2 separate regions of the Homo sapiens genome follow, and region 2 is linked to region 1. The links come from fine-mapping of genetic effects on gene expression. A gene starts in region 1. The other region holds a variant in brackets. All regions are shown on one strand. Distances are between the middles of the regions.

The links. PIP is the estimated chance that this variant, and not a neighbour inherited with it, causes the effect.
Region 2: its variant is fine-mapped to the expression of RDH14 in sun-exposed skin (GTEx, PIP 0.90).

Annotation. Positions count from the first base shown.
Region 1 is chr2:18,558,735-18,563,122 of GRCh38, reverse strand. RDH14 (retinol dehydrogenase 14) reads left to right here and starts at 2,470. Exons shown (of 2, transcript NM_020905.4): 1 at 2,470-2,943. The coding sequence starts at 2,551. The region is part of intron 10 of NT5C1B-RDH14 (NT5C1B-RDH14 readthrough); the gene reads left to right. NT5C1B (5'-nucleotidase, cytosolic IB) reads left to right here. Exons shown (of 9, transcript NM_033253.4): 9 at 1-252. It overlaps LOC105373456 (a long non-coding RNA gene), which reads right to left and starts at 2,947. Exons shown (of 6, transcript XR_007086234.1): 1 at 2,432-2,947. RefSeq lists enhancers at 2,061-2,280, 2,291-2,340, 2,401-2,450, 3,261-3,310 and a silencer at 2,541-3,050.
Region 2 is chr2:18,520,866-18,525,253 of GRCh38, reverse strand. It overlaps LOC105373454 (a long non-coding RNA gene), which reads right to left. Exons shown (of 8, transcript XR_001739302.1): 8 at 1-3,912. Among named protein-coding and RNA genes, the nearest start is that of RDH14, 38 kb to the left of the region's middle. The variant A/TTCTTGTCATGGCAGA (reference allele first, on the strand shown) is at 2,256.

The sequences.
Region 1 (4,388 bases):
CGGCTTTGGGCCTGGCAGGCTGGCACATCCATATTTGTATGGAAAAAAAAAAAAAAGACCCTACGCTACCACTTCAAAAAGTGACATGAAGTGTAGTATCCTGGCCCTTCATTGTCATTCTCTCATGATTTTTGTTTTGTTTTCAACAAAAATTGGTTGGTCATTAAATATATCATATGTTAGGCACAGTGACCTGGTTATTTTCACATGTTACTTCATTTTCTTATCAAATTAAATGTTTGTGACATAGTATTATTATTACCTTCCTTTTTATCAATGAGGAGCCTAAGATTCAAAAAGATTAGACAGCTTGTTTAAGGATATGGAGCTAATAAGTGTTAAGACTAATTAGATTCAAATTCAAATCTTACTTCATAAGTTATAATGAGGTCTCTTTCCTCCCTTCCAAATAGAGTTATTAATTTCATGGCCTTTGGACCCATCTGGTACAGATTAATCATTTCATTAAGTTCCATGCATAAACTACACAGCAGTTACACTGCAGGTCTAAGGATTCCTCCCTCCTCTTTTCCTCCTACCCTCTCCTGCTCTCTCTACCTCCACCTTCATCTCTACTCCACCTGTACATATGTATTCCACCCCTGGCTCTAGATGAGAGAAGACCACAGCTGAAACACATCTTCTGATGCTCCCTAATTTTATGTAAACCAGTCCAAAATATATCAGTTGTGACATGTGACACTGAGTACCTACCATTTTGTAGGTGTCCTCCCATGCAAAGACCACAAGAGGTACGCAGACACAATCCTATCCTCTAGGAAACTTGAAACCTTAACAATCTGGTCAAGGAAGTCAAATGTGCAAACTCAAACAGCCAATACTAGAAGGCTGTTTGTCTTCAGTGCCAGTGAGGGTCACACATGACCCTGAGGGTCACACATGAAGGGAGCAGAGATCTTTATAGGCTGGAAGTGGTCAGGAAAGAAAGACTTGAGGTAGCCTGTGATTTTGATGGATGGGCAAGATGTGGATGGGTAGAAAGGACAATAAAGTGGAAACATATGCTGGGGGATCAATGAGTTTGAGTAGCAGCTTCAAATTGGGGATAGGGTGGTGTAGGACCACCTCTCATGATTCCTGTTCCTGGTGCCTTGTATAATCCCCAGTAAGAGTGCTCTTTCCCACCTCTGAGCTCCATTCTCATTACTCATAAGAAACCTCCTGGAATCCATCCCTTTTTCTTTGTATTCTGACTATTAGTTGCATGTTACATCCTTCCCAAATGTAAGGGAGTGGAAGATGGATTATCACAATTATTGGGGAGTTTGTCTCAAACGACACAAGCTGTGGTTCTTTTTCCTTGTCTGGAGAACCTGCAATGGGTGGAGGGTGGGAAGTGGGAGATCACAGTTCCAGAAAGTAAGCACCCTGAGAGCAGAAATGGTGTCCCATTTCTCTGTGGCTCTAACAGGGAACAGGCAGGGCCAGGCACATATTGGATGGAGAGGCAGACGAACGAATGAGTCTTTAAAAGTAGCTTGGTCTACAGCTATGAAGTTTGTAGCTTGAAGAAGGGTCCCTGTGACACTAACCCTGATATTAATGAGGCATTTTACAGTGAGCCAAGCACTTTGCCTTCCATCGTTGTGTGTAATAGTCCTATGGAGAGGGCAGGGAGGCATTTGTAAATGGCCTGCTCAGAAGCCTATATTTACAATAAGTCCAAGCTTTTCCCACTGTACCTCTGCCAGTGTGAAGATCATTTGAAGATGGCTTTCTTTTTTTTAATAGGGACCAATGACATAATGTCTTGTTCAGTGGTTCTCAAAGTGTGGTTCCCAGATCTGCAGCAGCAGCAGCACCTGGAAACTTGTTAAAAGTGCAAATTATCAGGCCCCATCCTGTACCTATTGAATTAGAAACTCTAATACTGGGGCCCTGGTTTTTTGTTTTCGTTTTGTTTCATTCCCCCACCCCGAACCCCCACCCCAAGTCCTCCAGGTGATTCTGATGTGCATTTAAGTTTGAGAACTACTCGACCATTCTATTTCCAACTGATTCATGTTGCTTAATTCTTTGTCTCATCTATGAAAAACAGTCCTACCTCAGACTTCAGCTTGTCAGGGCCCATTCCTCAGAAGGTGAATTGAACTGAATTTACAAGTCCCAAGAGCCCTCAAAGGAAAACACACGAAATGCCCTGAGGAGTGGCATTTGTAACAGGGCCTGTACAGAGATCTGTGATTCAAAGTACTCATCAGACATTCCCATGGGGAAGTCCGCCACTACTCTGGGATTTCAATACGTATGAACCCCAGCACCCTGAACACTGTGCTGGTTGCCCAGCCTCCATCATTAGGCTGGGAGGAGCTTCCACGGAGGGCGCAGGACCCAGGGCGCTGAACTCTCACAACCAATCAGGCGACCCCCCCAGAGGGAAACTACAAGTCCCAGCATGCCCCACGCGCACCGTCAGGGGCCGACCCGCCGCGCCCCAGCGTTCTCCGCGTACAGGTGGTCTCTTGGGTTCCGGTAAGGCGGCGGCTGCGGAACTCCCGTGGAGGGGCCGGTGGGCCCTCGGGCCTGACGATGGCAGTGGCCACTGCGGCGGCAGTACTGGCCGCTCTGGGCGGGGCGCTGTGGCTGGCGGCCCGCCGGTTCGTGGGGCCCAGGGTCCAGCGGCTGCGCAGAGGCGGGGACCCCGGCCTCATGCACGGGAAGACTGTGCTGATCACCGGGGCGAACAGCGGCCTGGGCCGCGCCACGGCCGCCGAGCTACTGCGCCTGGGAGCGCGGGTGATCATGGGCTGCCGGGACCGCGCGCGCGCCGAGGAGGCGGCGGGTCAGCTCCGCCGCGAGCTCCGCCAGGCCGCGGAGTGCGGCCCAGAGCCTGGCGTCAGCGGGGTGGGCGAGCTCATAGTCCGGGAGCTGGACCTCGCCTCGCTGCGCTCGGTGCGCGCCTTCTGCCAGGAAATGCTCCAGGTGTGGGCCTCGGGGGGCCGGGCTGGTGGGGAGGGCCTGGGCACGGTGTGGGAGGGGACTGCGGGCTGGGGCTGAGCCGCGAGGGACCGCCCTGGGGTTCAGGGTGTCACCTTGGGAACCGCTGAGGCTGAGAGGAGTCCAAAAAGCCACTTTGAGGCGGCCGGGAAGCTGCAGGGTTGAGAGGGAAAGAGAAACTAACTGGGAGGGCTGCCTTCTGTCCTCTAAGGATGTCGAAAAAGAAATGGGCCCAAGAGAAAAATAAATAAACCAGTTTCTGAACGTTTCATTTCGTTACGTGAGGACCGCCCCGAAGTAGATCCATGGCCTCTGAATTGTTTTTCCTGTGTCAGAAGTGAATTTGCACCAAGCTGTGTCTTCAGAACCCCTGAGCACTGGGGGAAGTTGCTAGCTAAGGACCTCATATCAGTCCTTTAAAAAAAGTTCTCCTTCCCCCGGCCTCTGCCCCTTTTCTGCTGGGGTAAGGAGCTCGCTGCCACCAGTAAACTCAGCACCATCCTTAACGGGACTGTGGCCTGATTTCCAAGTAGAATACATTTTGGAACCCAGTGGTCATGCTCCATACAGAGACAGGAATAAAAATAACACCCAGCATTATTGAAGATCTGTATGCCAGGAGCTGTGCCAAGCATTTCAGATTTTCCTTTTTGTCTTAAATGAAAATGAAGTGTCCTTGCCTATAACTGTCATTGAAGCTACACAGTAACCCTGTGGAGTAGGCATTATTATCATCCCTGTTTTACAACGCGAGGAAACTGAGGCATAGGAAGGCTAAGAAACTTGCTTGTGGTCTGTCTCCAGAACACTTGCTTTTAACCCTTGTTCTTTCCTCCTGCTGCCTGGCAGTGAGGTGTGAGGATTTCTTTGTGCAAATGGTAAGTAATTCCACATAAGTGGATGTTCTCCGTTGAGATTGAGGTAGAAGAGTTTCTTGCAGGGATAACTGGCATTCAGAGGGCATTTGTTCAGAAGAGTGAAATTTAAAATTAGCTGGGACAAGAAAGGTGCCTATATGACGTAGAGTCTCTTGAGTCTAGAGAAGAGGTTCCCAAATTTTCTCAGTAATTTTTTCATGATGCCCTTAGGCCAGAAATATTTCCCAGTTCATTTATTTAGAAAGTTTATTTTGCCAAGGTTAAGGATGCACCCGTGGCAGAACCTCAGGCGGTCCTGAGGACATGTGCCCAAGGTGGTCGGGGCACAGCTTGGTTTTATACATTTTAGGGAGACATGAGACATCAATCACATATGTAAGGTATACATTGGTTCTCCTGGAAAAGTGGGACAACTCGAAGTGGGGGCTTCCAGGTCATAGGTAGATGGGAGACAAAAGGTTGCATTCTTTTGGGTCTTTGATTAGCCTTTTACTGAATACAATTTACATGTGCAGGAGGGATAGAGGAATAATCACTTATGTCTTAGACTGG
Region 2 (4,388 bases), 38 kb after region 1:
TGGGATTTTCAAATACAACACTTTGCTTTTTCATCCTGATGAGCTTTTGAGGGCGGTAGGCAGTCTTATTATTGTTTCAATCTTAAAAATTAGAAAAATGGGGTATAGAGAGTAGTTTGCCCCAACTCAGTGTTACAGATGGAAAGCCAGAGAGGAACCCTAGGACGACTGGATGGAAATATAGGGCTCTGTGTATGCTTGATGGGCTTTCTTCCTTTCTTGGTGATTTTCGGCCTTCACTGAGCATTAGAATCACATATAGAGGACTGAAAAATAATAATTGTTCCAACTCATTCCCCCAAATCCTGTCTGATTCAGCAGGTCTGGGGACTGGTATAGGCATTTTCAAAATGGTGAGACTGTGGTTCTTCCTAAATTGAAAACCACTATCCTCTCAAGTAAAGACCTAATCGTCTTTTCTAGCCTTACCTCCCATGTTATCCTTATCCAGATACCAACCTTGGGTCAGGCCAGGCTGGTAAATTCATTGTGTCCTGGATTTCTCTTGCTCTATCTGGCCTGTGCTCCTTTGTTTCTATGAGATCCTCTGCCTAGAATGTTCTTCCCAGTCCTCTATCCCTACCCAAGAATTCTCCTGCCAGGGTTCAATTCAATCCTGCCTTTTCCAGGAAGGCTGCCATGAATCTCCACGGCCATGGGGATTCGCCCTTCATGGAATCCTTAGTTTACTCATAGCCAGGAGGAATTATTTTGGCATTTATCATTTATTGCCTTATGTTGCTACAGATCTGTTTCATGGGTTACTCTTATCTCTGCAGAGGGACTGCAAGAGTCACAGAGAGTGTGAGAGAAGGCAGAAAGAATGAATAGAGGATTCAGAGTCAAGAGTCTTGGGTCTGACCCCTGACCCAGCCAACTATTGGTGACATGACCCCGAGCTGATCATGGTTTCCTTACTGTTATTTTTGCTATCATTTGTTCACTTTGTCTTAGAGTTTTAGTGGTCTTCATTCCAAAAAGAAAATAATGTAGGAAACCAACAATTTCAAGATTCTGTATCAAAAAGCACCTAGCAGCATTCCTGTAATCTCAGAAGCTCTCAGTATCTTGCAGGTCTCAATCTGAGACCTAAATCCAAGCCTTCTGTCCAATTCTGTTCTAATTATACCATACTAATGTGAAGACTTGGATTTTCTGAAAAAAACGCAACTTAAAAAATGTGATTTTTCGTCACATCCTAAATGCAAGGAAATCCCAGGTCTTCACCTGTAAATATGTGTCGAACTAAAGAATGAGCAAATGAAGCACAACTGGAGTTCTACAGGAAACACGCGAAGAGGAAAAAGAGAAGGAATGATCACACCTGACAAGGAAGGTCTGAAACGTCTTTGAAGATGTGACATTTAGCTGTTGAGGTTTTAGGACATAAATAATTTCTCTCTTCCTCTGAGGATTCAGAGTCAATTCAGTATGGGCACTAGGGCCAGAAGGAAGAAACTCAAACTATCAGTTGGTAACTCTGGATTGGAGAACAGGCCTCTTTCCCCTGCCTTTGCAGTATAAACCCTTATGAGGGCAGGGCCAGTCCCAGGCAGACGTTCTCACCCTTCCCACTACAGAGGGCATTACTCCTTCATGCCAGTCCTGCCCCCGTGGAGGGACTTGCCCTGAGCACGGGGCTTCATGACTGCCTCTAGACGGCAACCACAGGGAGAAAGTAAGTGGGAGCCAGGCAAGAAGCCCTTGATCTGCAGGCAGGAGGAGCCCTGAAGACGGAGGGATGGTGGAGCTGAGCTGGGTATGCTCAGGTTCTGATCCCAGTTACTCCTCTTCTCCTAGGAAGAGCGAGTCAAAGATGGAGTCAGGGGCTGGGAATGTTCCTCCATCTTTTCTCCTCCTAAAGAGAGTGGTGAAACTCTCGACTTTGCCTCTCCTCTCTGTGGAAATAGGAGGTACGGGTAAGCATTTCTCCCTAAAAATGGTCATGATGATAGCAGGCAGACATTTAAGGACAAAAAAGAATCAGAGGAAACTGTATGTATAAATTGTACATATGCATGCTTGATGTGTGAAAATGTGGAATATGTACATGGAAGGGGGTGCACCCTGGTGCATGAGGCCTGTGGTGCACAGAAGAAACTAGAAGAGAAGAAGGAAAAAATGATATTGCCAGATTTTGAGAGCCTCAAATTCCAGGCTTAGGAGTTTGACTTTGATCATCAGGCAGTGAAAATCTATGCCTTTTATTGGAAACATAACTCTAAAGCCTCTGCCTGCACCAGCATAGCAAGCAG[A/TTCTTGTCATGGCAGA]AAAACTGGCCTTAGCCACCCCCTCCACTTGACCTACTTGTGAGCAATCCTAGGTGGAGTCTCCTGGACTCCAGAATAAGATCATGCTGCACATTCACCTAAAATATATTGCAGGAATTCTGCAGCCAAATATCCTTGACATGAATACAGAAACAACAGAAATACAACAAGCAGATGACTGAGAATTGGACCCACTGGTGGGGATTTGGAGGTGGCAGAGTGCAGCCTGTGGAGTGTTTGGCCCTGAGGGTCACATCATTCTGAGGACAGGGCAGAGCTGCAGGTGAGCACTTAGTGAGGGTCAGAGGTAGCATGCAAACATGAGCTTTGGACTCATTAACTCAAGTAAGAAACAGCACTGGGGGAAATAAAGGCTGACCCATCAACAGAGGAATTATATTCAACTCTGGCGAGAACCACGCCAACAGTCCAAGCAATTTAAGAGATGTACTTAACTAGTGTGAGGAGGAGTCCTCTAATTTCTGTCTCCAAATTGGATAGCATGGACTCTTTACATTTATTCAGCACACTGCAGTGTGTGAAGCCCTTTCACATAACATTACTCATGAGTTGTCACAAACAGCTCTGTGAAGCAAGGAGAGCTAGGGGAGTACAATCCCCATTTTAGGAAACTGAAGCCATGAGTTCCATGAGGAGGTCTCAACTCAGGCCAGCTCTCCCTCTGGCTCCACTGTAACCTTGTGGTTTTATTGATGGGGGCTTTCCTTGAGGAAGAGGATGCAGGAGTTGATCTGGCTCATCAGTCTGTCCCCCTGTGGAGGTAGAGGCCTGCGCTAGAGAATATTGTTATGGTCCTTCATCCTGTAAGGTACCATCCACACGTACTATTTCCAAAGTGACTGAATTTGCTTAATCCAAAGTGGTTAAGTAGAATGACAAACAGAGATGGGGTGTTAAAATTAGGGTTAACTGACAAGATTAAGAACGTCCTATACTGCTAGATTTATTTTCCTCCTTTCCTGGTCTTTTAAATGGGCCTAAAATATATAAAAGTGGATACAGAGATACAAATTGGTAGCTCTAGGGCCAGAAGATGTTTAAACTAGTGTTTTAAAAAGCAATAGTTTGAACATCAAATTCAAGTCATGTACCTTCCAGTTTGACAAGGTTTGTACCATTCCCTATTGTCTTATATCAGACCCACTTTTATTCCTTCAGTCAGTCAACAACAACTATTTACTCTACGCCTGTTCTGAGCCGGGCGTTCCCCCATAACTACATTTTCATTACCTGCCTGGGCCCACAGACACTTGAATAACTGGTCTCCACCCTAGACCACAATCGAGGGGAGCTCATGTTTGACGAATGCTCCTTTATTCCTCTGAGCGTAACCTCCGTACCTGAAGTTTACATCACCTCGAAGCTAGGGTGTTGTAACTAATGTTCACCCTGGGTCTTCAGAGATTGGTTTTTCCAAAGACTCTGCTGCTTTTCCTTTTAAAATCCCAGAGCCAGAGGCAAATGGTAGGCATTCCTCTCCCCAGAGCCCAAATAGGTGGCTGAAACCTGGAAACTTTCAGGGACTTGCCAAAGGCCCCAAAGGTAGCAGGGAGGCCTCCCGGAACGACTGGTCCTCTTGATTCCAAGCCCAGAGGTAGATCTCCTGTCCTTGAGGGGCTTTGGTTTCAGACCCTGCCTGAGAGAACAAAAGAGACTTCAGTTGTCACATCGACACAGCCCCGAGCTGCTCTATTTTCTAACTTGGCTGGCTTTCCCCGTGTGCTGTTTCACATCAGATACCTCCTCCCCCCACTTTCCTTCAGATGATTGGTTGAAATTAAATATCCTGAAATTACATTGAAGGGGGGGGGCGCTAATACAAAATTTTAATCAAAATACAAGCTTAACAGTTCCCAGCCTTTGAAATGTGAAGCAGACACTGGGTCCGCAGGGATGCCCCGACATGTTCTCAGGTGTGAAGTTAGCCAAGGAAGGGGCCCATTCTCTGAACATGAGAATTGCAAGTAAACCAGCACATTGCAAACTCAGGATTTCCAAATGAGGCAGGGCCTTCTCTCCCTTTCCACAGCGTGCATGGGCAGGCTGGCCCAGAGGGAAGTTCTCACTGAAGACACTGGAGGAGAAAGGGTCCCTCGTGAAAGGGTCTGGGGG